7 linked regions of the Homo sapiens genome follow. The protein of the gene in region 4 interacts with the protein of the main gene of each other region in a biochemical or structural test. Each region holds a gene or a part of one and is shown on either strand. Other genes may lie near its edges. The genes, in order: FAM184A, DIDO1, PPP4R3A, LRRK2, SERF1A, RPS6KB2 and CIMIP4.

Region 1 (4,437 bases), on a different chromosome or scaffold from region 4:
AAGTTTTGAAAGCTTGACTTCAGAATAACATTTTCTTAACTAAAAATAAATCAAACAGGTTGCATGAACAAGATTTAAACAAGAGACTTGAAAAAGAGTTGGATGTCATGACAGCAGACCACCTCAGAGAGAAAAATATCATGCGGGCAGATTTTAATAAGACTAACGAGCTACTCAAGGAAATAAATGCCGCTTTACAAGTGTCGTAAGTCATATTATATAAGAAAATTCATATGTGGATAATAAATTTAGGAGCACTGTGTTTAACCTCAGATTAGCTGTTATTTTGACTCTAATAAAAAGGATACTTTAAAAAGAAAATTTTAGTGCTGTGTTACAGATGGTAATTGCAGTGCTATATGTTCTTTAATTAGGATGAGGCAGTTGAATGATGATGTTTTATCAACTAAGACTGCACCAGTTCTGCTAGAACAGTAATCTAAAGAATGTTCCTTAGGATCATGAACTATCATGCCATGGTGAAAACTGAAAATATGGCTATATATAATGTTAAGTAAAAAGAATATATAGTGAACAATAGGAATACTATGATCCTATATACACACTAATAATGTATATTTTACCAAAATATCAAAATATCTTAACAAATACCAAATTTTAATGGTAATGGTTCCCTCAAGAGAATGGATTAGGAGGTACTGGAGATGAGAAAGAGCAATTCTTTCTTTTTATTTTATATACTCCACTTACATATTGTTTAAATTCCTACAAGAAGCATCTAATTGTCTTATGATTTTAAAAATCAATAAAGGGGAAAACATTACAAATAAAGTTACCGCTCATACATAGTAACTACAGTATTGTTAAAACCAAAGTTTCTAATTCTTATTTAATGTTCTTTGGAAACATTTAATAACCCTTCCTTTCCTAGATGCTTGTAAACTGATGTAGCTAATGCAGTTTGTACTCAGTCCATCTCTGTGGCCTAAACCCTGGTCCAACATAAGTTATTTCAGAATTAATCTACTCTAAGCTGCTGCTAGTAGTTTATTCACCTTTAGTCTCTCCTCTTCCAATCAAATATATATATATCCACATACTTCAGTAAAGTCACAATTAGTGACTAATCCCATTATCCTTCATGTCAAAGTCAAATGTAAACTTAACAGCTCCAATGTGCCTTATTCTACATCATCCAACAGCAACCCTTATTTCTTATTCTGTCTTTTTATCAGCCTAGTGGACCTTCTTGGTTTCCTGTGTTGTCCTCTACAGTCTAGAATAACCTCCTGTGTTGTTGCCGTTTTAAGTATTGTCCTCAAATCTAAAAATTATCTTCTTTTATTTGATTTATGTGACCAATTCAATCTTTCGGTAAAGATTGTTACATACATAGGCAACACCACAACACACACATACAGACGCACACATGCACACACATGTATTCACTTAAGCCACAGCAGAAAACAGGTCCCCAGTTGTTATTTACTTGAGTATGCTGTGAGATGAGGTGCTCTTTCTGATGGGCATATTCAGAATCGTTACATTAGTTAAGCACTCAGTGAATGTTTCATGAATGAATTTTATGATTCTTTCTCCATCATATTTACCACTTTTTGAAGTTGCCTTTGAAATGGTGAGGAAACTTGTGTTACTTCCCTGGTCACTCTGAGTTTGGTGTTTGCTGTTATTAGAGGTGATTTTTAAATCCTTTTGGGCCAAGTATGAGCTCAGGTATCTGCCTTGTATAACAGCTCATAACCCCATACTTTTGCAGAAATGATTTACAATAGACCTCAATTCCTTGGCTGTCCTTTTTCCTGGCCTCAGTGGTACTCCTCAGACAGAGACTGAAATCTTGGCATCCCCCACTTCATGCTCCGAAAAAACATAGTCACAGAAAGAATAACGTCAGTCTGTCTGTGTGTCCTGTCTCCTTAGGAATGTTAATTTACAAAGAGTAAAGGTTGTGTCCTTGTTTTTCCTTTATTCTGTTGCATATGGTTTTGCACATTATGAATCTTCAGTAGGTAGCAAATAACTTAGTTTTTGATTTTATGATCATTTTTAATAATCAAAGAATTAGTATTTGCTTTTAAGTAAACTACCTGCTTTTCTAGACTCTCCTTTCATTTTAATGCTTCCACTTGGGTCCATGCTAACCAATTATGTTTCTTTTTTCACCAGAAACTTACTGCCACCAGGTAATTACCCCCTAGCTTTAGGTGTTTACTCCTTTAGTTAAAAACAAACACACACCAAATTTATATTTGACCAACACTGTCCAATAGATTGTGATAATGAAAATGTTTTGTATCTGCTTTGTCCAGGTTAGTAGCTTCTAGCTAAAAATGGCTCTTGAATGCTTGAACGGTGATTAGCATAACTGAGGAGCTGAATTTATAAATTTCATTTAATTTTAATTAATTTAAATGTAAATAGCCATATGCAGACTAATGGCTACAATGTTGGAAAACATAGTTTTAGACAATTGGTTGTTTCTGTTTCATATCCTTAAATGCAGCCTGCTTGGATCTGCTGAATGGTTTGGATTTAGACAGGTAGTGAGCAGGGAGAGTTGGTTCCAACTTATGGAGCTGTGGGAAACAGTATCTGTACTGTTCCCAAGGACTAGGGGATTCTATTGAAGTTCCTAATCAGCTGCACCCTGGCTTTAAAACTTTGAAATCAGAAGAGTCCTGTGGATTCCTGGAAGGCAGTGGTGCTGGGGGCTGAAGGGACATGGTGCAGCCTGACAGGCCACAGCCTGCCACTGAGGAAGCTTGGGGGCAGAGGCAGCTTCTTGCTTCTGCTCCTGCCCCAAATCCTGTTGAACTCCCTTCCTGGAGAGAGAAGGGTGGGGCAACACATGTAAAGGATGGGAAATACCCTCTAAGTCTGTAAGTATTGTAGAAGTGGTGATGAGTTCTATATTGCTTATGGATGATGATTATTACAAATCCGCTTTGGTGCTGGAAGTTAAAGTTTTAGATTTTTCAGAGAGTTCTATAGAAATTTTATTTTTCAGTGATATAGTAGTAAAAACTTTATATCTAATAAAAATGTCCTGATTCTGGTTTCTTTTAGAAACAAATGAGAAAATGGGCTGTTTGATTTTTTTTTATCTGAATGATTTACTCTGTAAGTAAAGAAAGTTCAAGCTAAATGAAAACATTCTCTACAACTTGAGGTCATGGCCGATTTTTAATATGCAAAAAGATGGTTCTGAGATTACTGATTGTTTAGGTTTATTTCACAAAAGATGATTTCTTCTTGAGAGAAATGTTGAGTTTCTATACTTAGATTTTAAATAGATCAGTAATCCCCAATTGAAAAGAAGCACTCCGCCACACCTGAATTACTAATTTTTTGTTTAAGTTTTGAGTCCTTTCATCTATAATACCCAAATAACTTTTGTTTTTGTTGTCATTTGATTTTTAATTTACCATTCAGGTATGGTTGTAAGCTTTGTGAGGTACGGAAGTAGTCTTGTCACAAATCAGAGTCTGTGCGTAATTTATGGGAAAAGAAAGGTTCAGCGTTAAAGTGCTTCAATTGCTATATTTCCTTTATTTAAGAGTTTAGAAAATGATGATATAGGAGTTTTTTCATCTTTATAAAATCAAAGTTATAGGATATATGTGTGCATAATATACTATTGTTTGGTTATGAAACAATAGTATACCATTTTTGGTTCTAAAATTCACTGATTTTATTTTTTTATCCTTTTCTTTTTCTTAACAAGACTATAACTTGGAAACTTTGTATACAGCTTTTTAGGCATTTGTAATTTAGGCCTGTTGTCCATGAATCACAGACATTGACCTGTATATTGTCAGAGCCAAAGAAAGCAGGGCATGCATGCCTGGTGAGAATCCATCAGTGGCCCTAATTAGTAATTTTATATGTTCTACTTCTCCTTTCTCCTTTTTTCCCCCTTTCTCTTCTCTCTTCTATTACTTTTAATGGAAATCTGTAAAATTTGAGTAAAAGGCTACACTTGTGTGGTATTCTCAAGGCGGCATTTCCCAGGCTTTAATCATCCTTGGGATGATCATATACATCCTTGGGAATTGGGTCATTTCTGGCTACGTATATTATTTTCTTAATATTTTTAATTGACTTATTTTAACTTAAATATTTAATAGGAAAACTTGATATCACTACAGTAGAACATTTATCACTACTGAAAAATTTTATCCTTTATTCTAAATAAAAGCTAAGCTATAATTATATGAATGTAAATTTTGTGAAAATAAAACAATGTTATTAGATTCTAGCTAGCATTTATGCTGAAGTCCTGCCTGAGTGTTGTGAAATAGAGTAATGAACATAAGTTATGAAGGCAATTTAAGATATACAGACCCGGCTGGGCACAGTGGCTCATGCCTGTAATCCCAGCACTTCTGGGAGGCCGAGGCAGGCGGATCACCTGAGGTCAGGAGTTTGAGACCAGCCTGACCAACATGGTAAAAC
Region 2 (4,437 bases), on a different chromosome or scaffold from region 4:
TTCATAATGTCTTCAACAGAGAAAATTTACTATAACATTTCAGTCAGCTTGTAAAATAAAAACATATGTATATCAAGGCACAAGCAAAAAAACCTGTTCTAACACAACTTTTTGTGTGTATAATTAGTGTGTAATTCTACACACTACACAGCCCATCACAGGGGGAATGTGTTCATAAAACTGCAACCATATTGTATCAGTAACAACTTTTCCCCAGAAAGAAAAATGTGGGTATCCTTGAAGCTGGGAAGTGAACAAACTACAGGTTAAAACAGAATGTACCAAATTTAATATTTCCACATTTCTAAGCACATTTTTTTCCCCAGCTGAAAACTGCTTCATTTTCTATTGACTAGAAGCAGCTGATGAGCGGCGATTCAAGCAGAGGACACACACTGACTTCCAAATGCTTGAATGGCGGCTCTCAAACCTTTTGTCTCAAGACACTTTTACAAGTTGAGAACACCAAAGAGCTTTTGTTTATGTGGAATGTATTGCTATTTTCAAAATTCTAAGTATGTATTAAAAATAAACCTATTAATACATTAATAGTATCTTTAAATGAAAGTTATTTCTAAAACAAACAAAAATGAACAGGAAGAGTGGCCCTGTTGTACATTTTTGCAAATTTCTGGCATAACCGAAGACAGCTCCATGTTCATGTCTACTTCTGCCCTCAATCTGTTCCCATAGAGTGTTTCAGCTAAAACATGTCATCAAAATCTTGCCTCACACAGATAGGTCTTTAGAATGGAGTATTGTAACCATCTTCACATAACTGGATGTTCACTGATACTACACCAACTCTCGCCAAGGAGCAGTTTCATAAAAGTTAGCTGAAACAGAATTTGCAGCCTTTGTCAAGGAACTTCTCCCTTTCTTTCATGAAAACTGACTGCTGTGTTCACTCTGAACACGTCCTTGCACTCTGGACCCATGTGCATGCTGTTCACCTGGATGACACGGGTTCAAGTAACAGACAGATTCTCAATGTCCACACATCTCATCGGATAGCATAAAACAAACATTTTTTTTCCTGTTGCCCAGGATGGAGTGCAGTGGTGCAATCAAGGATCACTGCAGCCTCAGCACCTCCCCCACCCACACCACCGCCAGGCTCAAAGCGGTCTTCCCACCTCACCCTCCCCAGTAGCTGGGACTACAGGTGCATGCCACCATGCCCAGGTAATTTTTGCATTTTTTTTTGTAGAGACAGGGTCTTACTATGTTGCCCAAGCTGGTCTCAAACTCCTGGGATCAAGTGATCTACCCACCTCCGCCTTCCAAAGTGCTGGGATTACAAGTGTGAGTCACCTCACCTGGCCGATAATGTCGGGTCCAATCTCCAAGAAGACTTTAATTACTAGAAAGCCATCAGGTTTACAATGGCAGATACAAGTTTTCTAAAATTCCAATTTTCACCCCAAAGCTCAAATTTTATCCTTAGCAACAAATACTGTTCGTTTTTTCTTTGAGACATCACTCGTTTTGGACAAAACGCCTGCCACATGCTGAGTCTGAAAACTGTCCTCCGTCTGTTGTTCTGTCAGGGACAGACAGCGTTTCCGAGACCACTCGGCTCCCAGCTCAATCCCCTAGGGCTGTGCGTGGACAGTACCACGTGGGGATGCAGCAGAAGCTTTATATATAACTTGACATTTAATCACAGCGAAAGTAAAAAAGATGTATGTTTGCGGGTTCCGAAAAAAATTAATATTTACTGCATCATCAGGGACATTATTTGGGAAAATTGGCATATTCTAAACATTCGGTGCCCATGCACGGTGCTGAAGAGGGCTCCAATCTGCCCTGTGCCACCGATGCAAATGTCAAACTCACCAGAAAAGGCCTGTACTATTAGACTATTATTATGCAGAAGTCATCTTTACCTCTTAGCCCCAGAAAGGGCTTCAAGGACTTCCCCCTCAGGAGTCCATGAAACACAAAGAACTGTGGCAACATGCCATTTCTACCAGTTTAGGAGTACACTGGATATGTGCAAAGCAGTAATACATACCTATGCTTCAGACATCAGAAGAGACTTTAAACATTTCCTTCCACAAGGGTTCTGTAACTACCTGTTAATCTTCCCTCAGATTCCCCAACTCACCAAAACAGTAAGCAGCCAAAAGTGAAATTTCTTAAAAACCAAATAAAAATATCTTCCCAAAAGGTCAGCTCTGTTACTTTAAAAAGCCTAACTGCAACTATTACAATGCATGGGTTTGCAACCACTGCAAATCTGTATGCTCAACTTTTACTACTCTAAAATCTGCTTGAAGTCATTAACTCAAGCGTGCCCACTTCCAGGTTGTGGTACAGCTGCATGATCAGGGCTCACTGCAGCCTCTACCTCATAGGTTCAAACGATCCTTCTGCCTCAACCTGAGTAGCTGGGACACCACTGGCGTGAGCCACAGTGCCCAGCTCCCACCTAAAGATTTTCAGTTCCAAAAACTTGAGACTAGTTTCTGAGTAATTAATCTCCAAGACACTTTAAAATATGACATACAACCATAATTAAGTTTCTATTTTCATAACATCGCACCTCCAGGAAAAGAGCTCTGACTTCTAAGCAAAAAGATAAAACAAAAATGCATAGTTTACCTCACCTAGTGGCAAACATTCTGTTTCTTCAAACCTCACATTCCCCTGAAACAATATTCAAAACAATTTTAACCCGCCAGTCAGAAATTATAATGCTACAATAAAACCTCACTATTCTAAACTTCATTATTTTCGCTAATTCTGACAGGGTAGGCCAAAGTTTACATTTATTTATATTTTGCCTATTAAGGGTCTCCTGGCTCATCAATCTGTTTATTATGCAGATGAGGAGCAACTGAGAAGACACTAGGTAAAAGATCTTTAAACTACCACAAATGAAGGAAAGATTACCCAATGAAAGACTCTTGATAGCTCAGTTTTCATTAATGCGACAGTCACTAGGAGAATATGCCTAGAAACTTCAGATGACATCCCCAAATGCGACGTGTTCTCCAGCCACCAGCAGCAGCCGTTCATGTACCATGATGGCCCACTCAAAGCTCCACCAGCTTGCGGCAGGAAACACTGTGCTGCACTCACCAAACAGGAAAGAGATTTGGGCCCACAAGGAACTGAAGAAGCCCAACTTTCATTTACTTTAGTATCTATGCAGAATCTGACTCAATTGCATAGATTACATTTAAATCCTTCAGACGGCAAATTCAAAGTTTTGCTGCTTACCAAATAATACCGTCATTACAAAAATTATTCTGGGCCGGGTGCGGTGGCTCATGCCTGCACTTCGGGAGGCTGAGGCAGGTGGATCACCTGAGGTCAGGAGTTTGAGACCAGCCTGGCCAACATGGTGAAATCCCCATCTCTACTAAAAACACAAAAATTAGCAGGGCTTGGTGGCAGGTGCCTGTAGTCCCAGCTACTTGGGAGGCTGAGGCAGGAGAATCACTTAAACCCGGGAAGCGGAGGTTGCAGTGAGCTGAGATCGTGCCACTGTACTCCAGCCTGGGCAACAAGAGCAAAACTCCCTCTCAAAGAAGAAAAAAAAAAAGCAGCAAGGGTGCCACAACACAGTATGTTTCTCACAAAGAAAATGTAGAGAAAAATCCAGAAACAACCTATTGTTGTTTTACATTTCTTGGGTATTTGTGTTTTTATAGATACGCGGAGACAAAAAGCAAAACTTGTTACTGAAAAACCTGCTGAGGACTAATGCTTTGGCCAGCCCCCGGCTACAGCCGGGCCGCCAAGCTCCCCATGTGAGCTTGCAACAATCCTGCCATTTCCCTCTATCTACTTCCTAGTGCAAAACACAGGCTGGTGACCTTGGTGGGCAACTCAGGTGGGAAATTTCAACTCTCCAAATGAATGCCAGGAACCAGAAACAGTCACATAAAATCATTTATCGAGGTGAAGGAGAAGTGAGGTTTATTGTTCTCTATTTAATGGCTGGACATAAAGTCTCCTAAACCACTACCTTTGATGGACTCCTCTTGTCTCAGTAAAAAAGAAAGTATGGTTTCAAACACTTAAGATACGGTCCCAATTCTACATACCAGGATTCCTGTTGCTCTTAATAAAAGATTACCACTTGGGCCCTGGTGAGGACCACAATGCACAGGTTCTTATCCCCATGAAGAAATCCACCTCATGCCGCAAGTGTGGCAGTGTGAGCTCCCCGGGTACCATGTGAGTGGGGTGCGCTGCGGGAGGTCATCCCAGCAGGGTACTGTGGGGGCTGCTTCCCCTCAAGGGCATCTGTTTATTACAGGTTTAAATCACTGTTCCTTTATGTTCTCCTCGGTCCACACCCTTAGAGACCTGCATAATTCCATGGCCCCAAGCACAGCCTACTCTTGCCTCCCCCCAACCCCCGATTTTCACTGCTGCAAAGGATTCAGCAAGGGGCTGTGTAGGGCACTTTGAGGGAGAGGT
Region 3 (3,500 bases), on a different chromosome or scaffold from region 4:
CTTGCTGGTTATTTTTTGCTCTGTTAACTTCTTACTTACATCATCATTCTGTTGTGCCTCCTGCATGACAAACTCTCGTACCATGGATGGATTATATTCAACCAAGTATGAGAATATATCAGTAGCAGCACTTCGCACCTGTGTATCATCCATGCCCTGCAGACAAAAAACATTTATTTTTCCTGTATTTATAAAAATACGGAACCTATAGCTATGTAAATATCCAAACCTAACAAAACATATGAAAAAACTTCAATGTAAAAGAAAGGTCAAAGAAATTCTTCTGCATATAAAACTCTTATTGTACGGATAAAATTATACTTTCTAAATCATTTATTTGTTTGCCTATTTTAACATTTCAGCTAATAAGCTGCAAAGCTGACAAACTATCATTAAATTATGGGAAATTCCTTTACTGCATTCTTTCAATACTGTGTGAAAACTGTCTAATATTGGAATTTTACAGCTTCTTTAACTTAATGAACTACGCAGCTAATTTCAAATATTGGCTATAATAGAATATTTGCATGTAGCATTAAAAATATTAATTTTGGGATTAAAAAATGGTAATTAAAAATGAGGAGACACAAAACTTACAAGGATGACTTCTAAAGCTGGTAATATGCCCATGTTTGACAAAGTCTTGAAAAAAGCATCTCTGTTTTGAGGCTGTAGCGTTTGGGAAAACGCACAAAATTCTTTTAAAAAGTTAACCTGAAATTAGAAAAAAGGATAAGTGATATAAAAAGTTTATTTTATTTATTTATTTATTGAGACGGAGTCTTGCTCTTGTTGCCGACGCTGGAGTGCAATGGCACGATCTTGGCTCACTGCAACCTCCACCTCCCGAGTTCAAGCGATTCTCCTGCCTCAGCCTTCTGAGTAGCTAGGATTACAGGTGCCCGCCACCATGCTTGGCTAATTTTTGTACTTTTTAGTAGAGATGGGGTTTCGCCATGTTCGCCAGGCTGGTCTCAAACTTCTGACCTCGTGATCCACCCACCTCGGCCTCCCAAAGTGCTGGGATTTACAGGCGTGAGCCACCAAGCCCGGCCAGTTGTTTTATTTTTATGCCTTTCATAGTATCTAATTTCTTACCAATTCCTGTCTTTTTTCCTCATCTGTTGCTTCATCTGTTAGTTGTGCAAACAAATCTGTCAGAAATTTTTCATCTTCCTGTGAAACAAAGGACAAATGCAATTATGTTAATGCTAAGATTGTCCTAAAATATAATTTCAGGAATGCTTTAATATACACAGCAATAACTATAAAAAGGAAAGGTGGTATTGGCAATGCTGTCTTTTTTTTTTTTTTTAACAGAAGGAAAAACCACACTATTAAAGTATAAAATTTTGTCAAGGCTCTATTTTCTAAGCCTATATAAAGGCCAGGTAGTAAATATTTTGAGCTTTGCGGCCCATGTGATCTCTACTACGAGTACTCAACCCTGCTCCAGTAATATGAAAGTAGTCACAGACAACTGGAAATGAATGGATATGGCTGTATTTCAATAAAATATTACTTACAAAAATAGCAGGACCAACACTTGCTGACCCCTCACTTTCATAGGTTTTATAACCTTATTAACTTTTAAAAGGTAGTTCTACAACCTCTCAAATGAGAATGAAAATGAAGACAAAGCTACTTTAGTGTTTTAAAGATACAGAGAATGACTCAATTATTTAAAAAGCAAAATTTAGAACTTTTTGTTTTACTTCCTCATTTTATAATTGAGACTTGGATTTTAAAATTTACCCAAGCCCAATTAAGGTGGCAGAGCCTTCATGATTGTCCGGTCAATGTTTCTCATCACTATTTTTTCATCAAGATCTTGGCTTTTGTTTTGTTTTGCTTTTTGAGACAGAGTCTTGCTCTGTCACCCAGGTAGAGCACAGTGGTGCCATCTCGGCTCACTGCAACCTCCGCCTCCCAGGTTAAAGCAATTCTCCTGTCTCAGTCTCCTTAGCAGCTGGGACTACAGGCACACACCACTACACCCAGCTAATTTTTGTACTTGTAGCAGAGATGGGGTTTTGTCATGTTGGCCAGTCTGGTCTTGAACTCGTGGCCTCAAGCAATCCACTGGCCTGGGCCTCCTGAAGTGCTGGGATTACGCACATGAACCACCATGCTCGACCAAGATTTTAATTACTACCTCAGCTAGTGGAAGTAGATTCAATACCACTTAAGCCCTAGACATGCCTCACTCTAAATACACATACACATGGATGTATATACAAGCTCCCACTAGATTACTGGCTCCACATTCACTGTTGTGAGTGCTCCAGAAAAATCTTCTGTGGCACTAAGTTAGTTTGGTTATTCTCACCTTTACTTTTTCTAAAATGAACAAATAGGTCATACCTCATTAATATGATCTTGACCATGTTTGCTACCCAAATGGCATCCAATTTCAAGACACATCTCCAATATACTATATTCTACCAAATGGGTATCAAATGGTTAAAAAAGACATTCTCTGAACTGCTGCAGTTGGGGGTACAGAAATAGAGAAAATAAGAATGTTTATGGTACTACAAAGGAAGCAGTCAATGTTAAGAGGGTGTGATATTTATTTTGTGTGCATGGGGCTATACAAAGTGGGCAGGAACCTGCATTAAACTGTACCTCAATCACTTCTTGCCAAAACATTTGTAAAATGCTACAGCCTTCACAGCAGCACTTTGGATAGAAGTGTCCAGCATCAAGAGAAACAGACATATTGGCAGCCAGTATTTTACAAAGCACATTACAGGGAAGCAAAGATTTAACAACTTGAAATTATTCATACTTAATGAATAAAACTGGCATTTTACATGTATGAAGACCAAGAAAACACAGAAGTGACAAATCCCCACATAACAAAAACAGAACCATATGGAGCTAAAGAAAAGGATCAGGAGAACTCAGTATTTTAGTTCATACTTTTCCTTTTTTTGCCTATCACTGGCTAATATTTTAGAAATACAAAATTTTCTAAACAGGAACAGACATGATTAAACATACTGCTTTATATGTAATGTGTGCTACCAGGCAGCTCTTACTACATTTATTGTCTTCCTTTCTATACTTAACAAATTCAGGTTTCAAATAAATTTTACTTATACACCTGAGGTAAAGTCTTAAAAGATCTTCCAAGTCATATTACACTTATCTGCAGCGGTGCGACCTTGGCTCAATGCAACCTCTGCCTACCAGGTGCAAATGATTCTCCTGTCTCAGCCTCTGGAGTAACTGGGATTACAGGCATGTGCCTCTGCCTCCTGGATTCAAGCGATTCTCCTGCCTCATTCTCCTGAGCAGCTGGGATTACAGGTGTCCACCATCACGCCTGGCTAATTTTTGTAGTTTTAGTAGAGACGAGGTTTTGCCATGTTGGTCAGGCTGGTCTCGAACTCCCGACCTCAAGTGATCCACCCACCTCAGTCTCCCAAAGACCTATTATTCTTACAATACCACAGGCATCAAAGAATAAAAAACAACGTGTGTGTGTGTGTGTG
Region 4 (4,437 bases):
CCTACTGGGCCCTTCATAATTCAGTGCTTGCTTACCTGTCTAGATTCATATTTTGCAAGCTTTTTGCCATCTGTGCTTTACCCAAACTGAAATTGACTCAGATCTCTAAGACAACCTGTTATTACCTTTCACCCCCAACCTTTGAATGTGGTCTTCTCCTTACCTGGATGACTATTATGCCCCCTGCCTATTTCAGTCCAAGCACCACTTGCTCTGAGTGGCAGGTTAGGTGACTTTGTGCTTCCATTGCATCTAATGTTTTCCTTCACAGTAGCTATAATTGTATTTGTTAAAGTAGTTTCTCAATACCACTAAATCTACTGGCTTTCAACATTGGCTGTGCATTTAGAAACCACTAGGTAGCTGAAAATAATATGATACCTGGGCCCTACCTCAGACCAATTAAATCAGACCAGTTAAGCCTGGGATGGGGATCAGATTTTTTTTTTCAGGTTCTCAAGTGATTCTAAAGTATATTTGAGGTTAAGATATACTGCGGAGTGCAGTGTATTATAAGTTCCCATGAATGAGGATTTTTATTTCTGTCTTTACATATTTATTTACTAGTATGTGGTTAACATTTGGATCAACTCATTCTCATTCTGTAATACCCACATTTTAAAAAATGAATGTAAAAATGTCTTTTATTATTTTTATTTTTCAAATTTAATTTTAGATTCCAGGAATACATGTGCAGGTTTGTTACAAAAGTATAGTGCGTGATGCTGAGGTTTGGAATACAACTGAACTCACAACCCAGAAAGTGGGCATAGTGCTTGATAGGTAGTTTTTCATCTTTGCTCCCCTTCCTGTAATTTCCACTTTTAACCCAATTATACAAGCCTGAAAACCTTTAAAAAGAAAGGGCCTCCAGTTTATTTTTTTATTTCATAGCACATTTTATGGGATTATGGATATCAGTTAACTCTTTAAAGTTCCATATAAGATTTGGAGCATAGATGCTTTACTAGAGAGCATCCATAAAGATCAAGCTCTCAAAGATGCTCATCTCCCAAAAGAGATTGGGACCTAGATGCATAAACACTTAAATATAAATATTTGCTCTCTTCTGAACAAGTATCTCCTGTGGCCTTGGTCTCTACCCCACAAAACAGACATCACATCACTAATCAGGGGTTGCCTCATCATCAGTACCCTCATCATCATCAGTACACACCGACTGAGAGGCATGTTGGGTAATGAAAGATGACTGCCTTTGAAGCCGGAAGACTCCATAGGACTTTTGGAGTTCTAGGTCTGCAACATGTTTTTAGTCCTAGGTCGGCAAGCATGATGTTAGTCATAGGACCTTGAGCAAATTATTTAGCATTTGTACATGTTTCTTTCTACTATTAAAAACATTGAGATTTATCATATTTTATGTTTTTTTATTAAGGATCAAGCAAGATAACACACAAAAGTATTTTATAAAATACGGAAATTCCATGCAAAACTTTGTCCTAATTGGAACTATTTTCTATTAAATACAGCAAATATCCAAGAAGGAATTACCTAAAGCGTAGTGGCTCTCTGACAACACATCATATTTTTACCTCCTTTTCCAGAATAGAAAGAAAAGGGGGAGGAAAAAAAATCTTCCTACTCTAGGATATACTAATGATTGTTAAATCTTTATGGTATTTTCATGTTATCTATCTGATTTAAATGCAATTTTGACTATTTTTACATATTCCTCGTTGTTCATTCATACTGTAGTGCCTTCTTCTATTCCCCCACTTAACAGACTGCTTGATTATATCAGAGGTGCTTATCTGTGCAACTGTTTACTGGACGAGGGGTATGTAGAAAATACATTGTCCTCATCCTTATGAAATTACACTCATAATCTAGTGTGAGGGATGCACTAATAAAGACAATTTTATATTTAATAAGGTCTATAATATGACAGTGACACCAGTGGGGAAAAGGGACTGGTTGGTCTATTTTGATAGGTCAGGGAAGAAATCCAGAGGAGCCGACATTTAAGTTCATCCTCAAAGGCCAAGTAGGAGTTTGCCATGCTGATGTGGCCCAAGGTAGCCAATCTGTTTGTGAAATATGTACAATGCCAGATGTCTTAGGTTGAAAGGGAAATATTTTAAGGTGTTCGTAATTTTTCTTTATGTTTAAAAGGGGAAAATGGCAAATATTTTACTTTCTGTTTATGTTTGGATGATGTGGATTTTTGTTTTCTATAATTTGACTGGCTTAACTGCAAAGATATCCCTTGCTTTAAAATTTGAAGACACTGCAACTAAATTTTATTTCAGCATTTTATATTTTATAACTCTAGGTATAAAAGGCTAACACTTAATTTTCTGAGCATTCATGAAACAAAGTTTTGCAAGAACATTCAAAAGTTACAGATATAATATTTCCTTCAGAAATTTAGATATAGTACAAAATTCTACAAAGAGCCACATAGAATTGAAACTAAAAGTAAGACCAAAGTAAACATTGGACATAATCTTTATTTTATTATCACAAGAAATTAATATAAAGTAACCAAAAGTAAGTAAAGTACCAAAGCATGTTATATATTCAATTCAGAATGGTTAGGGAAGAATATGAAATAATTGCAATAGTCTAGCTTGTTTAGTTTTCAAAATAGTGTTTTTACATTAAGAACTAATATAAGGTTGTATTACACGTAGAAATTTTAAGAAGAAAACAAATAGTGATGACTTTCTATTTTTTTTTCTCTGTAGGTTTTCTTATGCAGCTTTCAGTGATTCCAACATCATAACAGTGGTGGTAGACACTGCTCTCTATATTGCTAAGCAAAATAGCCCTGTTGTGGAAGTGTGGGATAAGAAAACTGAAAAACTCTGTGGACTAATAGACTGCGTGCACTTTTTAAGGTAAATTCTGTGGTTTTTAATTTTATTCCCAAAAGAATTATCTTTGCACTTCATGTGTCACAGAGGAAGGATTTTTCTTCCTTTCTGCCTCTGAATAGAGAATTTTTTTAAAATGCAGAAAAAAATTTGTAATGCTTCTCAGCACCATCTTTTCAGATCAAGAAAATTTTGTCTTCAGAACATAAAAGAATAGGCACATAATGTGCATAGTTTTCTCATGGTATTACAAAGAATGTTCTCGAATGAAAATACTACATTATTGAAAATGAGCATATTGGAGTCTCTGCTAGCTTTGACATAGTTCTGTCACAGTGTCAAATATACTATTTATAATTAAATTATGGGCCCCAGGATTATCTGCTCTAAAGAAAAAGAGTCACAAAATAATAGACAAATATGGGGGGAAATGCAATGGACTGACCGAGGCGCTAAGGAGTGGGGATCAAGACCCCAGAATGAGAGCATAGTGCTTAGTCTGATGCAGCCTGTGAGTGACAAATCCATAGCAAGCACATTCTTTCTGTGCTGGTGCTGAGAAACAGGACCATTTTCAAGCTTATTTGCTAGCCACTTTATATTTTTATTTTGTTTTGATTTTACCATATAGATCTATGATACTCTTGAGAACATTTTAGATTACACACTATATCTGTAAAAGGATACTTCAAAGTTTCCTGTCTTAGATTCATCTGACAGTTTTTCTATGGATTGTGAGAAGGGCTCACAGTTTATGTTCAGAAGGGCCAACAGGTCTCCTTGATAAAGGGTTCCTTACTTCCTGAAGTACCAAAACGATTAGGATTCTTTTATTTCTGGACACTTCATTTTTGTCATGAATTAGACTATTCACTGGTTCTGGGAAAAAATTCAGTGGTTTGTATCGATATCTTTTACATGTGAATGACTATAATTTTATGTTCCTTTGTAACATTGAGACTTCATGTAAAACTTTTGACTCTAACTTTTTTTTTTCTTTATCCTGGGCACATGTATGCTATTTTTACTGAATTAGATAGCTTTGGTATTTATAAAAATTGTATCCCTCTTATTCATAATTTCCTGAAAATGAAGGGCTATTGTTATCTTTGATAATTTATGCTTCAAGTAAAGAAGTGTGGCTCTTTGGCATCTGTATTTAGCAAAATTTGCTTTGTATAATTTTAATGATGCATAATGGTGGTGGTGTCATGTTTTAATAATTTAAAATGTTGTTTATGTTATCATATGTAAATAGCATTTATCTCTTAATTGGTGGTAAAATTATTAATGTATACTTTATGGTTCTAGGGAGGTAATGGTAAAAGAAAACAAGGAATCAAAACACAAAATGTCTTATTCTGGGAGAGTGAAAACCCTCTGCCTTCAGAAGAACACTGCTCTTTGGATAGGAACTGGAGGAGGCCATATTTTACTCCTGGATCTTTCAACTCGTCGACTTATACGTGTAATTTACAACTTTTGTAATTCGGTCAGAGTCATGATGACAGCACAGCTAGGCAAGTTTCTTTCCTTTAGATATTTTTCATATTCTCTAAGTCTTATAAAATATGCCTTTATTTTACGTTTACATTTTCTC
Region 5 (3,410 bases), on a different chromosome or scaffold from region 4:
TTTGAGACAGAGTCTTGCTCTGTTGCCCAGGCTGCAGTGCAGTGGCACAATCTTTGCTCACTGCAACCTCCACCTCCCTGGTTCAAGCGAGTCTCCTGCCTCAGTTTCCCAAGTAGCTGGGATTACAGGCATGTGCAACCAAGCCCACCTAATTTTTGTATTTTTAGTAGAGACAGGGTTTCACCATGTTGGCCAGGCTTGTCTCGAACTCCTGGCCTCAAGTTGATCCGCTCGCCTCGGCCTCCCAAAGTGCTGGATTTACAAGTGTAAGCCACTGAGCCTGGCCTGTTTTAACTTTTTGAGGAAATGCTAAACTGATTTCCACAGCCATGATGGTAAGATATTTCTGTAAAGCCAATAGCAAAAACAAGGGAATAGAAGAAAGGCAAAATAGGCCAGTGGCTCACATCTGTAACCCCAGCACTTTGGGAGGCTGAGATAGGCGGACCACCTGAGGTCGAGAGTTTGAGACCAGACTGAGCAACATGGAGAAACCCTATCTCTACTAAAAATACAAAATTAGCCAGGCATGGTGGTGCATGCCTGTAATCCCAGCTACTTGGGAGGCTGAGGCAGGAGAATCACTTGCACCCGAGAGGTGGAGGTTGCGGTGAGCTGAGATTGCGCCATTGTACTCCGCCTGGGCAACAAGAGCGAAACTCCGTCTCAAAAACATAAAATAAAATAAAATAAAAATAAAGAAGAAAGGCAAAATAACACAGCTACAGGCTGTTCTGCCTATAAAGTAGCCAATATTTATTTCTTTACTTTCCTAATAAACTTGCTTTCACTAAAACAAAAACAAAAACATAGCTATAAAGAAATGAAGTACAGTGGAAAAAGAACCATGACAGTTACTTCTCTATTTGAAACCAAGCTCTGTTGTGCTTGCTGTGTAACTTTAGTAATGTTACTGAAGTTCAGAGCCTCAGTTTCCTATTCTACAGATTAGTGCTAATACCATTTTTCAGAGTTATGATGAATAAAGAATAATGTATATAGAATGTCTAGCATAGAATTTTATAAGGAGTGCATATCTGGTAAACAATGACAATTTCTGAACCAAGCTAGACTAGGTTCTCCAATAAAAATACTATTGCAGGGTCACTGATTCATACCATGTTCATTTTTACTCTAATGTGAGTCAACAGAAATTGAAGACAAAGCTTATCACTTTAATAATAAATGTTAGGGCCGGGCATAGTGGCTCACACCTGTAATTCCAGCACTTTGGGGGACTGAGGTGGGCAAATCACTTGACCCCAGAAGTTCAAGACCTGCCTGGACAACATGATGAAACCCCGTTTCTACAAAAAATATAAAAACTATCTGGGCTTGGTGGTGTGCCCTTGTAGTCCCAGCTACTCAGAAGGCTGAGGTGGGAGGGTCACTTGAGCCTGGGAGGCAGAGCTTGCAGTGAACCGAGACTGTGGCACTGCACTCCAGTCTGGGTCACAGAGTAAGACGCCATATCTGGGAAAAAAAAAAAAAAAGGTGTCAGGACCTTTGCCGTAAATTAAGGTCTTTAATCTCATTTATCAATGACTCTTAATAGTGGCTGCACATTAGAATCACCTGGGAGCTGTTTTAAGTTCAGTTTAAGGTATAACTGGGTGTGCTGGGAGGCTGGGGGAGGGATAGCATCAGGAGAAATACCTAATGTAAATGATGAGTTGATGGGTGCAGCAAACCAACATGGCACATGTATATCTATGTAACAAACCTGCACGTTGTGCATATATACCCTAGAACTTAAAGCGTAATAATAAAAAAAAAATTCAAAAAAAAAAAAAAAAGGTATAACTGGGCCAGCGTGGTGGCTCACGCCTGTAATCCCAGCACTTTGGGAGGCCGAGGCGGGTGGATCACTTGAGGTCAGTAGTTTGAGACCAGCCTGGCCAACACGGTGAAACCCAGTCTCTACTAAAAATACAAAAATTAGCTGGGCATGGTGGCGGGCGCCTGCAATTCCAGCTACTTGGATTGCTGACGCAGGAGAATCGCTTAAGCCCAGGAGGTGGAGGTTGCAGTGAGCCGAGATCACGCCACTGCACTCCAGCATGGGCAACAGAGTAAGACTCTGCCTTTAAAAAAAAAAAAAGGCATAACCTAAGTACAGTAAAATTTACCTAGGGTGCTTTTTAATGCTCGACCTCTGACCAATTAAATCAGAACTGGATGAAAGTTAAATGTTTGAGCATAGAGATATCCCAATTACCCCGATTTGATCATTACACATTGTACACATAAAGGTTTTTTTTTTTTGACGGAGCCTCGCTCTGTCGCCCAGGCTGGAGTGCGGTGGCGCGATCTCAGCTCACTGCAAGCTCCGCCTCCCGGGTTCACGCCAGTCTCCTGCCTCAGCCTCCCGAGTAGCTGGGACTACAGGCGCCCGCCACTGCGCCCGACTAATTTTTTGTATTTTTAGTACGGACAGGGATTCACCGTGGTCTCGATCTCCTGACCTCGTGATCTTCCTGCCTTGGCCTCCCAAAGTGCTGGGATTACAGGCATGAGCCATCGCGCCCGGCCGGAGTTTCACTCTTGTTGTCCAGGCTGGAGTGCAATGGCGAGATCTCAGCTCACCGCAACCTCCGCCTCCCAGGTTCAAGTGATTCTCCTGTCTCAGCCTGCCGAGTAGCTAGGATTACAGGTGTTCGCCACCACAGTTGGCTTTTTTTTTTTTTGAGACGGAGTCTCGCTCTGTCACCCAGGCTGGAGGGCAGTGGCACGATCTCGGCTCGCTGCAAGCTCCGCCTCCCGGGTTCACGCCATTCTCCTGCCTCAGCCTCCCAAATAGCTGGGACTACAGGCGCCTGCCACCTCGCCCGGCTAAGTTTTGTATTATTAGTAGAGACGGGGTTTCACCGTGTTAACCAGGATGGTCTCGATCTCCTGACCTCGTGATCCGCCCGCCTGGGCCTCCCAAAGTGCTGGGGTTACAGGCGTGAACCACCGCGCCCGGCCACACACTTGGCTAATTTTGTATTTTTAGTAGAGATGGGGTTTCTCCATGTTGGTCAGAATGGTCTTGAGCTCCCAACCTCAGGTAATCCACCCGCTTCGGCCTCCCAAAGTGCTGGGCTAACAGGTATGAGCCACCACGCCAAGCCAGTTTCTTTTTGTTGTTGTTTTTTTGAGACAGGGTCTCACTCTGTCACCCAGGCTGGAATGCAATGGCAGGATCTCGGCTCACTGCAACCTCCGCCTCCCAGGTTCAAGTGATTCTCCTGCCTTAGCCTCCCAAGTGGCTGGGACTACCCAGCCCACATACAGGTATTAAAAGATCACATGTACCCCCAAAATATGTACAACTATTGTAATTCAATTTTTTAAAAAAACAAAAAATCAAAACTGAGCATAACGCAAGGCTTGAGTAGCTGTCAAGGTTTCCCAGGTGATTCTAATGT
Region 6 (5,222 bases), on a different chromosome or scaffold from region 4:
GCTGGACAGACGTTTGCTGAATGAATGAATGATGGGACGGATGCACGGATGGATGGATGGATGGGTAGGACAGAGTGGGGGCCCCCTAGCCAACCCCCACAGACTCATCTCTCAAGAGCTTCCCCCCAGAGCTTCCTTTGCTGGCTCGCTGCCCCCCCGCGACCCCCAGCACCCCTGCCTGGGCCCGCACTCATACCACTGAGGCACTCAAGGATGAGGTAGAGTTTGCCACCAGTCTGGAAGGCATAGGCCAGTTCCACAATAAAGGGGTGCTTCACTGACTCTAGAATGTTCCGCTCAGCCCGTGTGTGTGCTGTGTCCTTGGCATTGCGCACAATTTTGGCCTGGAGATACAGGAATTGGTTAGAAACTGAGGCATCCAGGCTGGGCACAGTGGCTCACACCTGTAATCCCAGCACTCTAGGAGGCCAAGGCAGGCGGATTACCTGAGGTCAGGAATTTGAGACCAGCCTGGCCAACATGGTGAAACCCCATCTCTACTAAAAATAGAAAAATTAGCTGGGTATGATGGTACACGCCTGTAATCCCAGCTCAGGAGGCTGAGGCAGGAGAATCGCTTGAACCCAGGGGCAGAGGTTGCAGTGAGCTGAGATCACGCCACTGCACTCCAGCCTGGGTGACAGAGCGAGACACTATCTCAAAAAAAAAAAAAAAAAAAAAATGGGGGCAACCAGAGCTCCTCAGACCATCCATCTGTTTGTTAACTGCTGCATCCTCTGTCACTGCATTGTATTTCTCCATAATTCTGCTGCTGTCAGCCACCATCATTTTCAGGGATGGGTTTATCCTCTAACACAGGGTTTCTCAACCTCGGCACTACTGACACCTGGGACCAGGTCATTCTTTGTTGTGGGAGGCTGCCCTGCGCATCGTGGGATGTTCAGCAGCATCCCTGGTCTCCACCCACCGGGTGCCAGTAACACTCCCCTCTTGCCTTGACAATCAAAAATGTGTCCATGCCAGGCGCAGTGGATCACACCTGTAATCCCAGCACTTTGGGAGGTTGAGGCAGGCGAATCACCTGAGGTCAGGAGTTCGAGACCAGCCTGACCAACATGGTGAAACCCTGCCTCCACTAAAAAGTACAAAAACTAGGCCAGGCACGGTGGTTCATGGCTGTAATCCCAGCACTTTGGGAGGCCAAGGTGAGCGGATAGCCTGAGGTCAGGAGTTCAAGACCAGCCTGACCAACATGACAAAAACCCATCTCTACTAAAAATACAAAAAAAAAAAATTAGCCAGGAGTGGTGGTTCACGCCTGTAATCCCAGCTACTCAGGAGGCTGAGGCAGGAGAATCACTTCACCCTGGGAGGTGGAGGTTGCCAGTGAGCCGAGATCGCACCACTGCACTCCAGCCTGAGTGACAGAGTGAGACTCCGTCTCAAAATAAGTAGGTAAACAAATAGAAATACAAAGATTAGCCAGGTGTGGTGGCACAAGCCTGTAGTCCCAACTACTCAGGAGGCTGAGGTAAGAGAATTACCTGAACCCGGGAGGCAGAGGTTGCAGTGAGCAGAGAGTGCACTACTGCACTCCAGTCTGGGGAACAAAGCAAGACTCCATCCAAAAAAAAAAAAAAGCTAGGGACGGTGGCTCATGCCTGTAATCCCAGCTCCCAGCACGTTGGAGGCCAAGGCGGGCAGATCACCTGAGATTAGGAGTTAGAGACCAGCCAGGCGAAACCCCACCTCTACAAAAAAGTACAAAAATTAGCTGGGTGTGGTGGCAAGCGCCTGTAATCCCAGCTACTCCGGAGTCTAAGGCACGAGAATCGCTTGAACCTGGGAGACAGAGGTGGCAGTGAGCCAAAATCGCGTCACTGCACTCCAGCCTGGGTGACAGAGCAAGACTCCGTCTTAAAAAAAAATAAAATAAAATAGTGTCCAGACACTGTTGTCAAATGTCTGCTGGGAGTCAAAATTGCCCCCATTGAGAATTACTGCAAGACAATACACATCACAACAGACAATAAACCAGCAAACGCCAAAGTCAGGGATCCTCCTCCACTGTGTTCCCTGCTGTCTTCCCAAAGCCTGGTACAGCATGTTGGGAATGGCAGCCACACAGTATTCGTTGGCTGAACGAGTGACTCACCTTCCTTAGGACTTTCATGGCATATATTTTGCCCAAGTTGGTGCCTTGCACCTTTCGCACCTGGAACACCTGTAGGGCAGGGGAGACAGGATCAACTTCCCTCTCCACATCCTATCTTCAAGAAGCCCCACCCTGAAGCTCTGGCTTTGGGATCAGGAGGCCTAGGCCCTGCCAAGGGTGGGGCAGTGAAGATTTCAAGTCCGATTGGAGAGGATTTGGCCTTCCCTCCTTTATGTTTCTGGCTCTGAATCCCATTAGAGGCCCTGCTGATTCACAAGTCTAATTTGTTTTGAGAACCCTTTGCTGCCTCCAGATGGAGGCTGTGAGGCCAGGAGGAGGGTGCGCCCGCCCCTACCTTGCCATAGCCCCCCTTGCCCAGCACACGCAGCAGCTCAAAGCAGTGGGGCCCGATGCGCTCTGGGCCAACGTTCACGCTGGTCTCAGTCAGCTCCACCTCTTCATAGTGTCCCACAGGCCTACGGACACAAGGAGTTAATGAGGACAAGGCTCCAGTGCTCCCCAGTTCCCCTTCCCCACTCCATTCCCCCCTCCCCCAACACGACCCTCACTCACTCTAGGCCAGCTGCCCTCAACTCGGCAAGGGGACATGCGTCCTGTGAGAAACCGAGGGGTAAGAGCCAAGGAAGGTGCCAGGATACCTCCCCGCTCCCGTTCAGGTTGGACTGCGTGGCCCAGGAGAGAAGGGTGTCAGGGATGGCAGCTAGTAGGGGATGGGTAAGAATTGGGAAGAAACCGAAGGCAGGAAAGGGAGAATCGGGAGAAAAGGCTGGGGTTCTGGAAGAGAGGTCGGGGTGAGGGTGGGATCAGAACTTAATAGAGACCGGGATCTGAGAAGGATCTGGGTCTGCAAAGAGTCGGAGCCCGCTCTGGGCGTGCGGAGCCGCCGCTCCGGCCTCGGCTGGGTGACAGGATCGGCTCCAGGATCCAGTCGCGCCAGGGCAGGGCACTCACCGCGGGGCTGAGCTCTGGCTCGCCCTCGCCCTCGCTGCCTTCCTCCGTCTCCAAATCCAAATCAAACACGGCCGCCATGGCGGCGCCGGCCCCGCGGGCCCGTCGGCCCGTACCTGGCCGCGCACTGACTGACAGTCCCGGACCTAAACATCATCTCTCCGCGACGGCAGCTGCGCGCGCCGGTGACGCAAGGGATCTTACTCCCCCTCCGGAAAATCGCTTAGCCTGGTGGGGAACAAAGATGGCTTCCGTCGCAAGGCCTCTCGGGAATTGTAGTCCTAGAGTGGCGAGGCGCCTAGCCTTCAGCCTGCAGAATCCTTTCCGCAGGACCCTCGGTCTTCCCAGCAAGGCTTTCTGGGAGCCCGTTTTGGTTCTACGGTGTTTTGAGTTTGGATGGAGCAGGGTCGGAAGTGTATGCAGGTGTGAATGTAAATGCAATCCCCAGCCCTGTTGGAGACGGGTACTGCCAGGCCGGCTGCGTGATGAAAGGCAGGTCGCGTTGCTTTCGGTTCACTCCAGAAAGGGAGGCGGCTGCATCAGGGTCTCCTCAAAGTGCCTCTGGCTCGAGGACCCTGCAAATCGGAGCATTTACTGAGTGGCCAGCTCACTGCCAGGCTATGTTGCCAGGTTCCCGCCTTAAATAGGGTTTTGGGGGTCAGTGATAGACCTGTAAATATGGGATTTTGTTGGCGTTTACTCCCTTCTTAATTTAAGCACATTTAGGCACCTGGTACAGAATAGACACTTCAAAAAACGTTGTTGAGGCCGGACACGATGCCTCACGCCTGTAATCGTAGCACTTTGGGAAGCCAAGTTGGGAGGATCACTTGAGGCCAGGAGTTCAAGGTTACAGTGAGCTATGATGGTGCCACTGCACTCCAGGCTGGGTGACACAGTGAGATCCTGTCTCAAAAAAACAAACAGGCCGGAGGCGGTGGCTCACACCTGTAATCTCAACACTTTCGGAGGCCGAGGTGGGTGGATCACTTGAGGTCAGAAGTTGGAGACCAGCCTGGCCAACATGATGAAACTCTGCCTCTACTATAAATACAAAAAATTAGACGGGTGTGGTGGCGCGCACCTGTACTCCCAGATACTCGGGAGGTTGAGGCAGGAGAATCGCTTGAACTCGGGCGATAGAGGTTGCAGTGAGCCAAGATTGCACCACTGCGCTCCAGGCTGGGCGGCAGAGTGAGACCAAGTCTCAAACAGATAAAACCCGAAAACCTGGCTGGTCACGGTGGCTCACACCTGTAATCCCAGCACTTTGGGAGGCCGAGCCAGGCGGATCACCTGAGGTCGGGAGTTCAGGACCAGCCTGACCAACATGGAGAAACCCCGTCTCTACTAAAAACACAAAATTAGCTGGGCATGGTGGTGCATGCTTGTAATCCCAGCTACTCGGGAAGGCTGAGGCAGGCGAATCACTTGAACCTGGGAAGCGGAGGTTGCGGTGAGCCAAGATCATGCCATTGTACTCCAGCCTGGGCAACAAGAGCGAGACTCCATCTTAAAAAAAAAAAAAAAAAAAAAAAAAAAAAAAAAAAAAACTTTATGGTTTTTTTTTCTTTGTTTTGTTTAGTTTTTCAGACAGGATCTTACTCTGTCACCCAGGCTGGAGTACAGTGGCAAGATCGTGGCTCATTGCAGCCTTGACTTCTTGGGTTCCAGTGATTCTCCCACCTCAAATCCCAAGTAACTGGAATGACATAATCACATAATCTTTTTTCTTTTCTTTCTTTCTTTCTTTTTTTTTTTTTTTAGAGGGGAGGTCTTGTTTTGTTGCCCAGGAGGCTGGTCTTGAACTTCTGGACTCAAGTGATCCTCCTGCCTTGGCCTTCCAAAGTGCTGTGATTACAGGCATGAGCCACTACACCCAGCAAAAACCAAAAACGCTGTTGACAGAATGAACTTAGGCCAGGCAGGGTCGCTCATGCCTGCGATCCCAGCAATTTGGGAGGCCAAGGCGGGTGGATCACTTGAGGTCAGGAGTTCAAGACCAGCTTAACCAACATAGTGAAAACCTGTCTCTACTAAAAATACAAAAATTAGCCGGGAGTGGTGGTGCATGCCTATAGTCCCAGCTACTTGGGAGGCTGAGGTAGGAAAATCGCTTGAACCTGGGAGGCAGAGG
Region 7 (4,900 bases), on a different chromosome or scaffold from region 4:
GTTTTGTTTTCTTATGTGATCTTTCTTTTTTTTTTTTGAGACAGGGTCTTACTCTGTCACCCAGGCTGGAGTACAGTAGTGCAATCTCAGCTCACTGCAACCTCCACCTCCCAAGTTCAAGCAATTCTCCCACCTCAGCCTCCTGAGTAGCTGGGATTACAGGTGTGCACCACCACATCTGGCTAATTTTTGTATTTTTAGTAGAGACAGGGTTTCACCATGTTGGCCAGGCTGATCTCTAACTCCTGGCCTCAAGTGATCCACCCGCCTCAGCCTCCCAAAGTGCTGGGATTACAGGTGTGAGCCACCGTGCCCGGCCTGTGACTTCGGTTTTGTTTGCTCTCTTTCCCTGGTTCTCCTTGGTTTGCTCATTCTGATGACAGCAAATGCCGTGTTTTGAGCTGCCCTGTGGAGCAGCCCATGGAGCAAGAAACTGAGGGTGACTTCTGGCCAAAAGCTCATAAAGAATAGAAGCCCTGAGTCCAACAGTCTTTGAAGAACTGAATGAATCCTGACACCTGAATGAGCTTGAAAGTGGATCCTTCCCCAGTTGAGCCTTGATATGAGAACACAGCCTGGATGACACTTTCATTACAGCCTGTGGGATACCCTGGGCCAGAGGACCCAGCCAAGTGAGCATCCTGACTCCTATAAGTTCTGAGATCATAAATTTGTACTGTTTTAAACATACAGTGTCAAACTTCTAAGCTTTATGGTCATTTGTTACGCAGCAATACATAGCTAATACATATTTTGGTACTAACAGTGGGGTGTTGCTATAACAAATACTTAAAAATTTGGGACTGAACTTGGAACCAAGCGGTGGTCAGAGTCTATAAGGATTTTGAGAAGCATGATAGAAAAAGCCTAAATCACCTTAAACAGTTTTTTTTTTTTTTTAAGCAGAAATCTGGAGTTGGAAGATGCAGTGAGTGAGGGCCCAAATGGAAGTGAGGAATATATTACTAGAAATAGTGGAAGAAAGACCCTTGTTATGTAGTGGCAGAAACAGTGACACTGTCATCTGCAGTTATGTGACTAATGAACTGAATGATTTAGCTAAAGAGTTCCAAAGAAAAGATGGTAGTTGCCTCTTACTTTCTTCTTGCTGCTTGTAGTGAAATGTGAGAGGAAGGTGATGAATTGAAGAAGGGACTGTTAAACAAAAAGATGCCAGTACTTAATGGTTCTGAAGTCTCATCCTTTCCAGATCCCAAAAGATGCTAAAATTAAGAAATAGCTTCAGAAGGCTGTCTGGAAAGTGTGCCCAGGAGTGTGACTGTGCGACCTGTTGTTAAAACTTCAGAAAGATCAAAGGATGAGGGTATTACTCTGTCAAACAAAGGGTGCTTTAAAGAGATTAAAGAGATGCCTGATATATCCTCTTAACAGAACCATAGGACCTCTAGGAAGCTTAAGGCTCCTCAACAGGAGCCTCAGTTAAAAAGGGGTGTGACTTTTGTTCAATGGAGTGAACCCCTGTAAGTTTTACTGTTGAGAAAATAACATCAGCAAAATGTTGGCAACTTCGGGTAAAAGGGATAGAGACAGTACAAAATGAAAAGATACCATTGAACAAAAAATAAAAATAAAAAAGACAAGTCAGAGAGTGGATGCAAGAGTCCAGAAGGCAGAGCTGAGAGCCATGGAGAATTATCCCCAGGCCTTGAAACCTAATCAAGGAATGTCCAACATTTGTGTGGCTGGATTTCAAAACCGCTATGGAACATTGACTCCATGTCTCCATTTTCCTCAATTTTGAATAGGAATGTCACTAGTTCTTATCCTATGCCTATCACATCACTGTATGTTAGGTGTGTTCAGGGCAAATTACTTAGTTTCACAGATCTATGATGGGGAAGAATTGAATCTGAGAAGCTGTACTTAAGGAACGACACTGGAGGAGCCTCAGCCACACCTGGAGCTGATTTATATGACCAGATTCTAGCTTTTAAACTGATGCTTTAATAGGATGAGAATTTTAAAGATCTTAGGAGGGGATGACTATATTTTGCATGTGGAAGGGATGTACATTATTGGGGGCCAGAGGGCAGAGAGTGGCAGGCAGTTGACATGGCTCCCAATGATCCCTGTTTCTTGGTATAATTCTCTCCCCTTTGGTGTGGACTGGACATAGTGATGAATGGAATGTGGCAAAAATGAGGGATGTTGCATCCATGATGAACTTATAAGAGACTACAACTTCTGTCTTTTTCACACACTCTCTGCAGCTCTCCTCAGCTCATCTTCTCTGACAGAAGCCAGTTTCCCTGTTGTGAGATGCCCTATGGAGAGGTCCACAGGGCAAGGAACTCAGAGTGGCCTCTTGCCAACAGCTCCAGAGTAGCTGGATCCTGCCATGTGAATGGGTTCCTTCTCTGGTCGAGCTTTGAGATGAGACTAGAGACCCAAGCAACACCTTGATTGCAGCCTGTGAGAGACCCTGGGACAGAAAAATCACCAACACTCCACCGGTATTCCCAACTCACAGAAACTGTGAGATAGTAAATGTTGTCTTAAGCCCACTAAGTTTTGGGGTGATTTGTTGTGCAGCAAGAGATAACTAACACAAGTCCATGTCAAGCATTCTCACATCTGGTAAATTAGTCTGGTCTTCACAAATACCCAGTAAGGTGTTCGGAGACACTACTAATTTATCTTCTTTCACAGATGGAGAAAATGAGGCTCCGAAAAGACACAGGACTTCACCAGGTGGGGCTAAAATTAAATTGCACATCTTCAAGCTAGGTGAAGTTCAAGTTAGCTCCAAGTTTTCTTTCTCCTCCTATCCCCAGCCACCAACCTGACGTGCCCACGGCAGCTCTGTACGTCCCAGTGCACTGCCAGTCCACAGCAGTCTGGACGGGCTACAATGGAAGTGTGGACTCACTTCCAGTTTCTGACCCAGAGAGAGAGATCCCAAGAGACTTTGGTCAAAGAGGGCGGGAAGGTAAGTCCAGTCTAGGCAGTCTTCACTCACAAGCAACTCTGAATGGGGAGAAGGAAGATGAAACCCCATGTCCTGGAAGAACCCTGGCCCTTCATAAGTCTCTGCCTCACCTCTCCAATCTCTTTCATAACAGCAGGAAACACGTGAACCACACTGATGTGTGCTGAAGCCCAGAAGTGCAGATCCCCACTGCAGAACTACTGGTGAAGACCAATGGATGGTTGCTGGGAAGTGGCCCTCCCCAAGATGTTCATTGGAGTTGCCATGGTGATCACTATACACAGGGCTCTGTTACCTCAGAGGGCTGATAGGCCCACCCGTAGGGAAAAGAGGCCAGGAGAAAGCCAGGATTGAGGCCAGGAAAAGGCAGGAGGGGCTTCAATTATTGTTCACTCTCTCATCCACTCTAGAATGTCAGTTGAGCCCCCACTACATGCCAGGTGTGCCAGGCACAGGGGGCTCAGATGCTACCAAGTGCAAAAGATGTTCTTGGGAGCTCAAAGCACTAAGTAGGGAGAAGAACTAGCTCTGTGTAGGAAAAAGGAGGAAGGACTTATGAAAGAGCCATTTGAGTTGGATCTTGAAGGATGCCTAGGAACTTAACAGTTTTGAAGGGATGAGAATATTAAAGGCATGGATGTGTATAACAGCATAAATGTAGGTCGAGGTCAATGGGGAAGGAGAAAGATGCATCTGGAGCTGTCTGATTTGGACACCCAGGGATCAGGGACCTGGGAGTAAAACTAAAGGAAGGGTCCTCTCTCCTATTCCTAAACAACAAGGGCTACAGAAGGAGATCAACAAAATTAAGTGACTTCTTTTCTGCAGAGAAGAAGGAGGCAGAAGTCATTGGTGCCAGCACTGGCCCATTCCTGTCTGGCTGTTGCTCAGCCTGGACAAAGAGTGGGTATAGTGAACGCCTCCTGCAAGCCCAGCCTTTCAGGATTTCCCCAGGAAACAGAGAGTGCTGTGGTTAAACTTGGAGTCCCCAGAATCTGGGCCTGTCACTTATTAGATAAGAGACTGGCCAAGTCCTTTAGCTGAACTTCCTTCACATGTGAAACAGATATCACCCAACACTAAGGATAAGGGTGATGGGCGAATAAAACAATTTTTTGCAAAATGTAGCACATTGCCTTGCACAGAGAGAGACATCACAAAACTCTAAGCTACTTCCGCAAGCAACCCATCAGCAAGTCCTTCGAAGTACACTAGATTTGGATGCCTTCGTCCACCTCCACAACTCCCCCTACTCCCTGGTCCAAGCCACCCTCATCTCTTGCCTAAGTATTATCTATTGCTGCACGACAATCTTGCCATAAACTTCGAAGCTTAACATACAACTGTTATCTCACAGTTTCTTTGGGTCGGGTGTCTACTCATGGCTTAGCTGAGTTCTCTGCATTGGGGTCTTAGCAGGCTACAATCCAAGTATTGGCCAGGGCTGCAGTCTCATCTGAGGTTCCACTAGGGAAGAATATGCTTCCAAGCTCATGTGGCTGTGGGAGGATTCAGTTCCTTGCAGTCTGTTAGACTGAGGGTCTCAGGCTCTCTCTGGCTGTCAGCCAGAGGCCATCCTCAGTTCCTTGCTATGTGGGCCCCCCAACACCAACATGACACTGACTTCATCAAAGCCAGCAAAGAGGGAGTCCCCTTGCAAGATGGGGCATTACAATGTTGTGTACCATAGTCACAGAAGTGGCATCCATCACCTTTGCCGTAGGCTGTTGGTTAAAAGCAAGTCACGGGTCCCACCCGCAGTGAAAGGGAGAGGGTCACACGGGGCATGAACACGAGGGGGCAGATAATATGGGGACCACCCTGGAGTCCACCATATCCTCTGACAGTCTTCTCACTCAACAGCCCAGCAATCCTGTTAAGACCTATATTAGATCATATGTCACCCCTCTAAACAAAACCTTCCAGCTCAACCACAGTAAAAGCTGACAT

What was found.
Region 1: the proteins of LRRK2 (region 4) and FAM184A form a complex in vitro, tested with the Homo sapiens proteins (one large-scale study listed by BioGRID and IntAct).
Region 2: the proteins of LRRK2 (region 4) and DIDO1 form a complex in vitro, tested with the Homo sapiens proteins (one large-scale study listed by BioGRID and IntAct).
Region 3: the proteins of LRRK2 (region 4) and PPP4R3A interact on a protein array, tested with the Homo sapiens proteins (one large-scale study listed by IntAct).
Region 5: the proteins of LRRK2 (region 4) and SERF1A form a complex in vitro, tested with the Homo sapiens proteins (one large-scale study listed by BioGRID).
Region 6: the proteins of LRRK2 (region 4) and RPS6KB2 form a complex in vitro, tested with the Homo sapiens proteins (one large-scale study listed by BioGRID and IntAct).
Region 7: the proteins of LRRK2 (region 4) and CIMIP4 interact on a protein array, tested with the Homo sapiens proteins (one large-scale study listed by IntAct).

What each region holds. Positions count from the first base shown.
Region 1 is NC_000006.12:118,970,196-118,974,632, reverse strand, and holds part of FAM184A (protein FAM184A), read left to right. Parts: intron 1-58; coding exon 59-205; intron 206-4,437.
Region 2 is NC_000020.11:62,916,006-62,920,442, forward strand, and holds part of DIDO1 (death-inducer obliterator 1), read right to left. Parts: intron 1-4,437. UniProt on the Homo sapiens protein: Putative transcription factor, weakly pro-apoptotic when overexpressed. Tumor suppressor. Required for early embryonic stem cell development.
Region 3 is NC_000014.9:91,475,811-91,479,310, forward strand, and holds part of PPP4R3A (serine/threonine-protein phosphatase 4 regulatory subunit 3A), read right to left. Parts: intron 1,177-3,500; coding exon 1,099-1,176; intron 715-1,098; coding exon 598-714; intron 157-597; coding exon 1-156. UniProt on the Homo sapiens protein: Regulatory subunit of serine/threonine-protein phosphatase 4. May regulate the activity of PPP4C at centrosomal microtubule organizing centers.
Region 4 is NC_000012.12:40,360,694-40,365,130, forward strand, and holds part of LRRK2 (leucine-rich repeat serine/threonine-protein kinase 2), read left to right. Parts: exon of another isoform or gene 1-2,491; intron 2,492-2,708; coding exon 2,709-2,861; intron 2,862-4,148; coding exon 4,149-4,357; coding exon of another isoform or gene 4,358-4,437. UniProt on the Homo sapiens protein: Serine/threonine-protein kinase which phosphorylates a broad range of proteins involved in multiple processes such as neuronal plasticity, innate immunity, autophagy, and vesicle trafficking.
Region 5 is NC_000005.10:70,903,248-70,906,657, reverse strand, and holds part of SERF1A (small EDRK-rich factor 1), read right to left. Parts: intron 1-3,410. UniProt on the Homo sapiens protein: Positive regulator of amyloid protein aggregation and proteotoxicity. Induces conformational changes in amyloid proteins, such as APP, HTT, and SNCA, driving them into compact formations preceding the formation of aggregates.
Region 6 is NC_000011.10:67,426,490-67,431,711, reverse strand, and holds the start of RPS6KB2 (ribosomal protein S6 kinase beta-2), read right to left. Parts: upstream 3,219-5,222; 5' UTR 3,167-3,218; coding exon 3,089-3,166; intron 2,731-3,088; coding exon 2,690-2,730; intron 2,593-2,689; coding exon 2,472-2,592; intron 2,186-2,471; coding exon 2,117-2,185; intron 345-2,116; coding exon 197-344; intron 1-196. UniProt on the Homo sapiens protein: Phosphorylates specifically ribosomal protein S6. Seems to act downstream of mTOR signaling in response to growth factors and nutrients to promote cell proliferation, cell growth and cell cycle progression in an alternative pathway regulated by MEAK7.
Region 7 is NC_000022.11:37,004,669-37,009,568, forward strand, and holds the start of CIMIP4 (ciliary microtubule inner protein 4), read right to left. Parts: upstream 3,184-4,900; 5' UTR 3,061-3,183; intron 2,989-3,060; exon of another isoform or gene 2,804-2,988; intron 1-2,803.